Linked DNA regions of Homo sapiens: region 1 is linked to region 2. The links come from fine-mapping of genetic effects on gene expression. Tissue or cell type: whole blood. Region 2 holds a variant in brackets; the other region holds the start of a gene. All regions are shown on one strand. Distances are from middle to middle.

Region 1 (6,429 bases), 78 kb before region 2:
CCGGCCCCCAGGAGCCCATTGCAGGCTACTTCCACATAGAGAGTGAGGCTACAAAGATGGGGAGACAGCCTCAGGCTAAGGGACTGGCACAGTACTCCGGGGACTTGGGGAAGGGGCACCCAGGAGGCATCCAGCTGAGCCCAACCTGTCTGCTTCCAGGATCCACTACCCAGAGGATCCCACAGTGTGACAAGAGTGCATGTGGGAGGGTTGTGGTACAAACACCAGATGGATCCCATGTCTTGCTGTCAGAGAGAATAAGTAGCAAAGTTTGGAACCATGTAAAGTACGCTGCTGTTTAGTCTTATATTTCCAAAGTTGTCTTTGCAAAGCACTGCCTTGGTCTTGGAACCCTCTTTGCATATTAAAATCATGTTCGGATCTCCCAGGCTCAAACTTTTAGACCCAAGATCTAAAACCAACACGGCCAACATGGGCGGGCCATTCATTGGAGAACAGGCTGGGCTGTGGTGATGCCATACTTAGGCTTCAGAGAGCAAACACGACTTCCTTAGGGAGGCCTTCCTGACTCCACTTCGCTGCTAAGTCTAGAGCAAATTCCTCAGTGGAGTACCCAGGATTTCCTTCCAGAGCCCTCAGTTTTGTAATTATATGAGTGAATCTGTCTCCCTTTGTTGGCAAGGGCTATTTTATTCACCACCATACTCCCAGTGTCTGAAAGCATCTGAAACAGTGTCAATCTATATAAAATACATTCATAATGTCTAAGAAGTGTTTTTAATGGTGTCATAAAATGTCCATGTTATAACATGGAATGTAAGAAGTCAGGATACAATCTTAACTAGTAAAAACTATACCGGGATGAGCCGGGCACGGTGGCTCATTCCTGTAATCCCAGCACTTTGGGAGACTCAGGCAAGTGGATAGCCTGAGGTCAGCAGTTTGAGACCAGCCTGGCCAACAGAGTCAAACCCCGTCTCTACTAAAAATACAAAAAATTAGCTGGGCATGGTGGTGGGCACCTGTAATCTCAGCTAGTAGGGAGGCTGAGGCAGGAGAATTGCTTGAACCTGGGAGGCGGCGGTCGCAGTGAGCCGAGATCGTGCCATTGCACTCCAGCCTGGGTAACAAAAGCGAAACTCCGTCTCAAAAAAATCCAAAAAAACCCCCCCGAAAAAACAAAAAAAACTATGCCGGAAAGATACACCAAGAACATGAATACTGGGCCAGGTGCGGTGGCTCACGCCTGTAATTCCAGCATTTTGGGAAGCTGAGAGGGGCGGATAACCTGAGGTCAAGAATTTGAGAGTAGCCTGGCCAACACGGTGAAACCCTTTCTCTACCAAAAATAAAAAAAAAATAGCTGGACGTGGTGGCACACACCTGTAATCCCTGCTACTCGGGAAGCTGAGGCATGAGAATCGCTTGAACCTGGGAGGCAGAAGGTACAGTGAGCTGCGATCGTGCTACTGTACTCCAGCATCGGCGACAGAGGGAGACTTCGTCTCAAAAAAAAGAACATGAATGCTGAGATGTTAATAATGTTCATCTCTATTCTAGGGAGTGGAATAACGGTAGTTATTTACTTCTTTGTGCTTTCCTGTATTTACCACAGGCAAACATTGCTATTATTTTTGAGACAAGGTCTCACTCTGTTGCCCAGGCTGCAGTGCAGCGGTGTGATCATGGCTCACTGCAGCCTCATCCTCCTGGGCTCAGGTGATCCTCCCACTCAGCCTCCCAGGGTAGTGTGGGTCACTGCACCCAGCCCATTATTTTTATGGTTAGGAAAAAATCATGCTTTTAAAAGCAAACAATGAGATGTGAGGATGATTGTGCTAGAGCAGAGGCGGGCTTATGAGATCACTCTGGGCCTCAGCTCCTCCTTGCTCACTGGTACTCCCTCCCTGACAGCACTGGTCAACCAGGGCACAGGGACTCACCTTCGGGGGTCTCTTTCCCCCAGCCTGTCAGTCAGGACATAGCTGGTCTTCTCACCCTCTTTGGTTAAACCCTAGTAGGGAGGGGAGTGAGAGAGACAAGGCTTGAGGCTTTTGGACAGTTCAGGTAAAGTGTAAGCCATGGGGAGTCAGGCCCCTCCATCTGGTTCCCAGCTCTGGGTCCTCTCTCCCAAGCAGGGCCAAGATTGGCAAATCAGGGACCCTTGGCAGTAGATGCCCCAACTCCCATGGCAGCCAGCACCATGACCGTCAAATAGCCCCTGTTTACCAGTGGCAAACCCATGGTCTTATGGGAAGGGCCCTGGGAAGGGGTTAGGCAGCCTGAGTGTGGATTCTGGTGGCCTCTGCACCCCTAAATAAATACCGGGAAAGAAACTCCGTGAAGTCAGGGGCAGGTTTGCCTCATTCCCTGCTACACCCTAGTGCTTAAGGGTATGGCCCAGAATGGACACCAGGAGATATTTGCTGAGCCAGTGAAGGGAGGAAGGGATGGTCTCTGCCTTCTTGTAGCCAGGAAGAACAGTCTTAACCCCAGATTGAGAGTCAGTCCAATTTGAAATAGAAGCTGTGTGAACCTGAGTGAGTCAACTACACATCTGTTTCTTAATTTGTAAATGGGTATAAAGACCTACTAGATAGGAGTATAAGGACTAAACCTGATAAGGGTGGAGCATGAATAAGACACTTAACAGTGGTTATAGCTGGGGAATGGGATGGGTGATAAGGAGAGATCCATTACTTTATCTAGAACTGTTTGAAATGTTTTCCTATAAGTTTGTATTATACACAATAAAAACTAAGGACCAATTGCACAGATGCCCAAGTGGCAACTTCCCTAGTCCTGAAATCCTGATACCACCCTGTGGGCAGAGCAACTCAGCTGTGGCTTCTCCAGAGTCCACAGAAGAAGGGCTGTAGTCATTTCAGGGCTGAAATGTGGCCATACCTGGCCCTAGGACAGGGTTCCTCACCTGGACAGGTTCTCCATCACGCCACACCAGACCTTCTCCATCACTTTCCCAGCAAAGGTGAACTTCCTGGCCCACCCATGCCTCTGGGATGGTCAGCTCCACCCGGAACCAGCAGGTCCACCATCTGCAAGAGAGCTGTTGTGATAGGCCTAGAGGTAGAAGTCCTATCCTGATATCCTTCCTTGGATAAAGTGTCGGCAGGGGCTTGAAACTCTCCAAGCATCTGCAGTGTCACAAGGTACTCAGCTTTGAGTCACAAGAAAGGAGCAACAAGGTGAGAAGCAAGATGAGGGAAACAGGCAGAGGCGTCAAAGGTTCGTGATCCCTAGGGTGCCCTTCCTAAGGGATGTCCAGAGGCGGCCACGTGGGAATGAAAACCATCCCCTGAAGACCCAGGGACCAGAGAGCTGTTCCCAGCAGAGGGTGCTGCTCCCAGCAGAGGGTGCTGCTCGATCCCACGTAGTTGTCTACGGCAGAGGGCAGACAACGAAGGTGTGGCTGGGAGCTGGGTTGGGACTTCCCCTAGGCCTGTGGCCCCGCCCACCCGCTGGGCGTTACCTACGTGGGTCCGAAGCTGTCGCCGACCTGCGCGGGGCGGAAGTCCCGCTGGACTGCCTCCTGGTAGGGAAGTCTCTCCGGCGTCAGGAAGCTGGAGAGCACAGCCACAGGGCAGCTGGCCCCAAAAAGCCTGCGTGGGACGGGCCGGTGGGCACATGCTGGAGGCCGCCCCGTTTCCGCCTGGGGGCCAGCTGGCCGGTGGGGCCGCACTTTCCCTGGATCCTCCGCCAAGAGGGCTGCCTGGCCGCTCCGCGGCACAGTCCATTCCCTACCCCCTCCTCCCCGGCCCCTGCCCTGCCCGCGGCGGGCACTTTGTCCCGCGGCCCGGGTGGCTGCAGCTTAGGTTTCTCCCCGGAAGGAAAGCTTGAGGCGCACGGTTGCGGTCGGCCGGCTGCGGGGGACCAGGGGCCACACCTGCCGCGGAGGTTACAGTCGGTAAAGTAGAGCGGCGACACGAACTTCTCCACCCGCTCCAGCGTGGTGCGCCAGTGCTTCAAGGCCGGCGCAGCCGCCATCGCCGGGCTCTCGCTCCTCTTTCCGGAAGGCCCCTGGCGCTACCGTTCCGCTCCACGGCAGGAAACCAAAGGTTCCGGCGTCCAGAGGGCGCCTCCCAGTCCCGGGCAGCTTTTCTTGGAACACCGGCGGCTCTCGGAAGCCCAGCTGCTGTCTGAACTTTGAGCCGAGTTGGAAGCTAGAAACTGTTTTTGAGGCTCTCCTATGTTGTCCGAAATAGTGGGCCGCAGGGAAAATCTCAAAATAAAATGGGAAATTTGACGATTAGAACTCTCGAAAGTCTCAAGACAGAGACTTAGGCCATTCGGCAAGACAGGCGGGAGCCTCAGCTGCTGCAGACCCAGCCTCAGAAGCAGCAACCGGGAGACCTCTGGCTCTAGCTGTCGGTGAACACGGAAAGTGGTGTTTGCTTAACGTGGAGCCAGACTACCCGGAATAGGTGTTTTCATACCGGACGGAGATCAGGGTGTTAGTGAGCAGGGTGGTAGAGCTTTACGCCCAAGTTACTACGACTTACTCGATTACACGCTTTACTGAATGTATATTGCTAACTCTTGCACATCACCAGAAACTCTGGAGTTTGAGGTGGCAGAACAGTCATGGCATTGACGATCCCAATGGAAAAATGTATTTCACCATACAGGACTGTAGAGTCCCGGGAAGCCATAATACCAGAAACAGACCTCCAGTTTCATTCTCATCCCTAGTACTCCACTGACAGCTTTATTTTTTTTCTCCTGGGGTTGCCAAGAGTCTTTGTCTATAAAATCATTAGGAACAAAAAAAAATACACAAGATTAGCCCTGATATTTTAATGGAAATACTGACCAAGTTTACAACATTTCAAATGCAGATCACACGGAAAGGTGACTAAGTACAGAATAACAAATGTGATTTAAAACAAAGATAACCTGCTGCTGCATATAATACAGGTTGGGTTTAGAGCTTGGAGCTCAGATGTCAGACAGCAGGAGGAATAAAAATGCTACTTGTGAAAACCCAGGCTGTAGGTAAAACTTACTCTTTTGTTGGTTGCACTGGTGGGTTGGGACTTTCTCCTGAACTGGCCTTGAAATCCTATCCTGACCTGCAGGCAAGTGCTCTGGACAAAACACTGCAGGGGCAGCAACAGCTGGGGCTGACCCTGATCACACCCCACCAATTTCCCCTATGGTTCCAGGTCAACATGACCTTTCTTGAGGGAACACGGGGATAGGTGAATTATTTGAGAAAACCTCAAGATCTTTCCCCTAAATCAGTACACATGACCACCGCCAAGTCAGACACTGCCCCAGCTTTGCCCTAAAATCTCATCCCACAAAGCTCTTTTTGGCACCCTACACTTTGGCTCACAGTCTCTTCTCCCCAGTACAAAAAAAGCCTAAAATCAGGCCAGGGTGGCTCACACCTGTAATCTCAGCACTTTGCGAGGCCGAGGTGGGAGGACAGCTTGAGGCCAGGAGTTTGAGACCAACCTGGGCAGCATAGCAAGACCCTGTCTCTACAAAAAGTTAAAAAATTAGCTGGGCGTGGTGGCATGCAGCTACTCAGGAGGCCGAGGTGGGAGGACTGCTTGAGCCTGGGAGGTCAAGCCTGCAGTGAGCTATGATCGTGGCACTGCACTCCAGTGTGGGTCATAAAGCGAGACACTGTCTTTAAACAATAAAAGCCTAAAATCAGAGAGGTCTACCATGTGTTTTGAAAATCCAGGAGCCAAAAAATTTTGTTTTTCTTTTTGGTGGTGGTGGTGATTTTTAACTAAAAAGCAAACATAAAACACACAGAACATTGCTGGTTACAACTAAGACTTGCGTAATGGTTGCTGAAGAAAAATCCACCAGAGTACTGGGAGGGGCTCAGTTGGTCTTTGTTCAGAAAGTCCAGGTTAACCACATAGAAAAATCCTAATCATTCATGTTTAAATGTCTGCTAGTTTAAATTTATGTAATTAAAAAAATAGGTATCCCATTTCAAATTCTCTCCCTCCCAACTCCATTTATAAGGTATACCACATGCCTTATGCACACTTTTTTTTCAAACACTGGTTTGGTATTTAAGTTGCTCACCCCCATCCATCACCAATGTGAATAAGAAAAAATATATAGAAATACAAACTACATAGCTTGACAACTTACCCAAATATAAAATATTTTCAGATTATTTGAACAAGGGAAAAAAACACGTACTAAAAGACTTAAGTATTCTAAGATTTTGGAATATTTTGATTTGGGACAAGTAACAAGTATTTTAAGCAAAATCCTGTTTCTACCCTGGATAAGGAACTGAAGTCAAAATCCCTGCTTCACAGTATTTTCTGGTGAGGACAAGGGACGTGGGTTGAGAGTTTATTCCTTAAGTAAGAACCAAGCTTTATTTATTTACAAAAAAAAAAAAAAAAAAGTTGGGGGCAAAGGGGAAGACAAGTTTTACACAAAAGTACTACAATGGTAACTCCCTTTGGTAAA
Region 2 (5,000 bases):
GAATCCCTTGAACCCAGGAGGCGGAGGTTGCGGTGAGCCGAGATTGTGCCATGGCACTCTAGCCTGGGCAATAAGAGCAAAACTCTGTCTCAAAAAAAAAAAAAAAAAAAAAATCACATTCTAAACTCATCTAGGGTACAGTCACATATGTATATGGGTGGAGACAGAATCTTGCTATGTTGCCCAGCCTGGTTTTGAAGTACTGGGCTCAAGTGATCCTCCCATCTCAGCCTCCCGAGATGCTAGGATTACAGGTGCACGCCACCATGCCTGGCTGAAGACTCTTATTTTACAACTTGGTTTATATAACTTTACCGTCATCCTAACAGTCTAGAGTACTACTGTCACACAGCATTCATCTACTAGTTCCTCTGAAATGTCTTCTGTAGTCAGTTTTCTTCTCTTTGCCATTATAGGAGGAAGATGAAAAACTATGGATTTTTAAATATGTCCAATGAAAGCTTAAAAGTTGAAAAATAGTATAAAAATTACCATGTACTCCTTCACCTAGATTCTCCAAATGTTAACATCTTACATAATGTTTAAGATGGTATCTCCCAACTTCTTTTATACTTTCTTGAAAGATGCTGTAGGCTGGGCATGCTGGCTCATGCCTGGAATCCCAGCACTTTGGGAGGCTAAGGTGGGTGGATTGTTTGAGCCCAGGAGTTCGAGACTAGCCTAGACAACATGGCGAAACGTTCTCTCTACAAAAAAAATACAAAAATTAGCCAGGTGTGGTGGCACATGCCTGTAGTCCCAGCTACTTGGAGGGCTGAGGTGAGATTGCTTGAGTCTGGGAGGCGAAGGTTGCAGTGAACTGAGATTGCGCCACTGCACTCCAGCCTGGGTGACAGAGTGAGACCCTGTATCCAAAAAGAAAAAAAAAGTTGCTGTAAGTTTTGGGAAAAGCAATAAGAAAACTGAAGGGCTGCGGTGCACACCTATAGTCCCAGCTACCGAGGATGCTTAGGAGGGATGATCACTTGAGCCCAGAAGTTTGAGGCTGCAGAGAGCTATGATCATACCACTGCCCTTCGGCCTGGGCAACAAAGCGAGGCCCCATCTCTAAAAACTGAAGTGTAAAACTAATGATTTATTTCACTACTGCATATCCTTTTAAGCAATTCTATAATTCTCCCTTTGTCATATTATTTTAGTCCTCTTTAGCATATTTGAGAATTGATGAGTAATGATGAAATAATTCCTAGGATGATGAAATACCAAAACATTTCAATATACAGGAAAAATAAGATCAGTAAAACTCCACAACATTGTTTCGATGTACAAGTGGTAATAGCTAAAATGAGTTTATTCCTTTGGAAAAAAAATAAATTTTCAGGCTGGGCATGGTGACTCATGCCTGTAATCGCAGCACTTCGAGAGATAAGAAGTTTGAGGCCAGCCTGGCCAATATGGTGAAACCCCATTTCTACTAAAAATACAAAAATTAGCTGGGTATGGTGGTACACACCTGTAATCCCAGCTACTCGGGAGGTTGAGGCAGGAGAACCAGTTGAACCCAGGAGGCGGAGGTTGCAGTGAGCCAAGATCGCGCTACTGCACTCCAGCCTGGGGATGGAACAAGACCGCATCTCAAAAATAAAATTAAAAATAAAAATAAATTTTCTCTTTGCTGTTTTGAAGACCTCCAATAAATAAAAGTCATGAAATATACATCTTTACAAGTAGTTAGTACTGCTTTAAAAAAAAAAAGCAAAACTCAAAAACTAAAATTGAGTCCAGACCAGGTGCAGTGGCTCAGGCCTGTAATCCCAGCACTTTGGGAGGCCGAGGTGGGCAGACTGCTTGAGCCCAGGAGTTTGAGACCAATCTGGGCAATACAGACTTCGGTGACACTGATGTTACCCAGACATTTCTTACTACTGTAGGTAGAAAATGAACAGAAATTTAGTTAAATTCAAAATGTATTAATAATTGTTATCAATGTTGATTTTCTGATTTGATCACTGTATTGTGGTTTTAAAAGATGCACTTGGGGAATCTAGGTGAAGATTATAGGGCTATTATTTGTATTATTTTTGCAACTCTCTTTGAAGTCTAAAATTATTTCCAAAGAAAAAGTTTTTTAAAAATTAAGTAT[T/C]AGGCCAGGCATGGTGGCTAACACCTGTAATCTCAGCACTTTGGGTGTCTGAGGCAGGTGGATTGCTTGAGTCCAGGAAGACCAGCCTGAGCAACATGGTAAGACCCTATCTCTATTTAATATAAGAAATATAATCTTTCAAAATATCTATAAGGCCAGGTGCAGTGGCTCATGCCTGTAATCCCAGCACTTCGGGAGGCCAAGGCAGGTGGATTGCCTGAGGCCAGGAGTTCAAGACAAGGCTGGTCAACGTGGTAAAACCCTGTCTCTACTAAAAATACAAAAAATTAGCCAGGCATGGTGGTGGCGCCTGTGATCCCAGCTACTCAGGAGGCTGAGACAGGAGAACTGCTTGAACCTGGGAAGGGGAGATTGCAGTGAGCTGAGATCGCGCTACTGTACTCCAGCCTGGGCGACAGAGCGAGACACTGTCTCAAAAAAAAAAAAAAAAAAAAAAAAATTAGCCAGGCATGGTGGTGGGTGCCTGTAATCCCAGCTACTCGGGAGGCTAAGGCAGAAGAATCACTTGAACCCAGGAGGTGGAGGTTGCAGTGAGCTGAGATTGTGCCAAGCCGAGATTGCACCACTGCACTCCAGCCTGGGAGACAGAGCAAAACTCCGTCTCAAAATAAATAAATAAATAAATAAATAGCTGGGTGTAGTGGCGCATGCCTGTAATCCCAGCTGCTCGGGAGGCTGAGGCAGGAGAATCACTTGAAGCTGGGTGTGTGTATGTGTGTGTGTGCAATGAGCCGAGATAGTACCACTGCACTCTAGCCTGGGCAACACAGTGAGACCTTGTCTCAAAAAAAAGAAAAAAAAAAAAAAAAAAGAAAGAAAGAAAAGAAAATAGAGCATTACAAAGAATAGAACTTGAGATAGTTCTTGAAAGGACAGGTGGAAGTGTCACTCACATCTCACACTGCTTTTATCACATTAGCTCTTCTGCTCCCACACAAACATGGGCACATAACATCTTTAACCATCTATGTATCCTCTACCATGCTCAGCATACTGCTTTGTCTTGTCTGTGGTGGAAACCAAATCATTCATTCATGTATACATTCTCTAATATCTACTGAGCACATACTATGCACCAGGTGTTTTAGGAGCTGGAGATACAACGGTAAACAAAAATCTCTTCCCTCAAGAAGCTTATATTTTAGTGAAAGATGACACAATAGACAAAGTATAATATTTAGAATAGTAGGCAGTGACAGGTATCAAGAACAAAAGGCAAGGAAGAGTTTTTGAAATTGTAGATAAGAATGGTCAGATAATACCTACTGATAAGGTAACTTCTGAGTAAAGGAAGTGAGGGAGCTAGTCATGCAGAAATTAGTGGAGGAAGCCTTCTAGGCAGAGGGGACAGCAACCGCAAAGACCCTCATGTCTTTGTGAGGGCTCACATGTGCTTGACATGTTCCAAAACAGCATGAAGGCTGGGTAGCTGAAGAAAAACGAAAGAAGGACTAGTCAGAAATGTAGTCAGAGAGGTACTAGGATAAGGGTGGCAGGCAGAGGGTACATCAGATTTGTTCTTACAGGTGTTTTTTTATTTTTTGACACAGGGTCTCATTTTGTCGTCAAGGCTGGGGTGCAGTGGCACAGTCATGGCTCACTGCAGCCTCAAGCTCCTGAGCTCAAGCAATCCTCCTGCCTCAGCCTCTCAAGTAACTGGGACTACAGGCACGCGCCAGCATGCTTGGCTAATTTTTAATTTTTTTATAGAGACAGGGTCTTGTTATGATGCCCAAGCTGGTCTCAAACTCCTGGACTCAAACGATCCTCCCACTTGAGCTCCCAAAATGGTGAAATTACAGACATATCCTTTTTTTTTTCTTTTGAGACAGTCTCGCTCTGTCGCCCAGGCTAGAGTGCAGTGGCACGATCTTGGCTCACTGCAAGCTCCACCTCCCGGGTTCACACCATTCTCCTGCCTCAACCTCCCGAGTAGCTGGGACTACAGGTGCGTGTGCCACCATGCCCGGCTAACTCTTTTGTATTTTTTTTAGTGGAGACCATGTTAGCCAGGATGGTCTCAATCTCCTGACCTCGTGATCCGCCTGCCTCAGCCTCCCAAAGTGCTGGTATTACAGGCATGGGCCACCGCGCCCAGCTCATTACAGACATATCTAAATAAGGACTCAGGTTTAATACTCAGACTGAAATGGAAAGCCACTGGATGGTTTTAAGCAGAGAAGTGACACGGTATGACTTAGGTTTCAAAAGAATCACTTGGGTTGCTATGTTGAGAACACATTTAAGAGCCGCAGTAACAAAACAAGGAGAATAGAATCCAAGCTAGAGATGCACAGGCACTGACTAGGGCAGTGGAGATGCAGATCCTAAGTGGTCTAATTCTGGATAGTATTTTGAATATAAAGCAGTAAAATTTACTGATGGACCACATATGAAAAAGACACAGAAGAGTCAACAATGTCTCTTAGTTATCCAAGAGGAGACATCGAGTGGAGACCTTGAGTGGGCCACTAAACATATTAGTCTATGGTAGAGGGAGAGATCCCCGTTAGAGTCATCAGCATTGTTTGGATTTTAGAAAGGTAATATGGTACATATACTGTATCATCTCTCTCTCCCAGCTAGGGCTGAGTAGCTCCCCATAATCAAGCAGTCACATTTCTGCATCATGCAGGATAGCCCAGGTCAGGCTGTACCCCAAAACTAGTTGTGGAACTAGACTTACCAAAAAACAAAAACTCTTGCATTTCAGAACTGCAAATAAAGGATGTGGACCTGCATATCCTCCAATAGCCCATATGTCAGCAAGCCTAGCCCTGGAGGACACCAAGAAGACTCATGAAGGGTCCACTGTCATGCTGAGAAATATGGGTAACATACAAGCATACAAGACAAAAAGTGGGTAGGGAAAACA

What was found. PIP is the estimated chance that this variant, and not a neighbour inherited with it, causes the effect.
Region 1: it holds the start of MAN2C1, and the variant in region 2 is fine-mapped to the expression of MAN2C1 in whole blood (TOPMed, PIP above 0.99). The same link has a PIP of 0.9 or more in blood mononuclear cells.

Annotation. Positions count from the first base shown.
Region 1 is chr15:75,364,618-75,371,046 of GRCh38, forward strand. MAN2C1 (mannosidase alpha class 2C member 1) reads right to left here and starts at 3,990. Exons shown (of 26, transcript NM_006715.4): 1 at 3,866-3,990; 2 at 3,456-3,581; 3 at 2,894-3,017; 4 at 1,905-1,975; 5 at 1-48. The coding sequence starts at 3,966. SIN3A (SIN3 transcription regulator family member A) reads right to left here. Exons shown (of 21, transcript NM_001145358.2): 21 at 4,762-6,429. RefSeq lists a silencer at 3,657-3,736 and enhancers at 3,763-4,295, 3,867-4,186, 3,871-4,165.
Region 2 is chr15:75,442,842-75,447,841 of GRCh38, forward strand. The region is part of intron 1 of SIN3A (SIN3 transcription regulator family member A); the gene reads right to left. Among named protein-coding and RNA genes, the nearest start is that of SIN3A, 6.3 kb to the right of the region's middle. The variant T/C (reference allele first, on the strand shown) is at 2,105.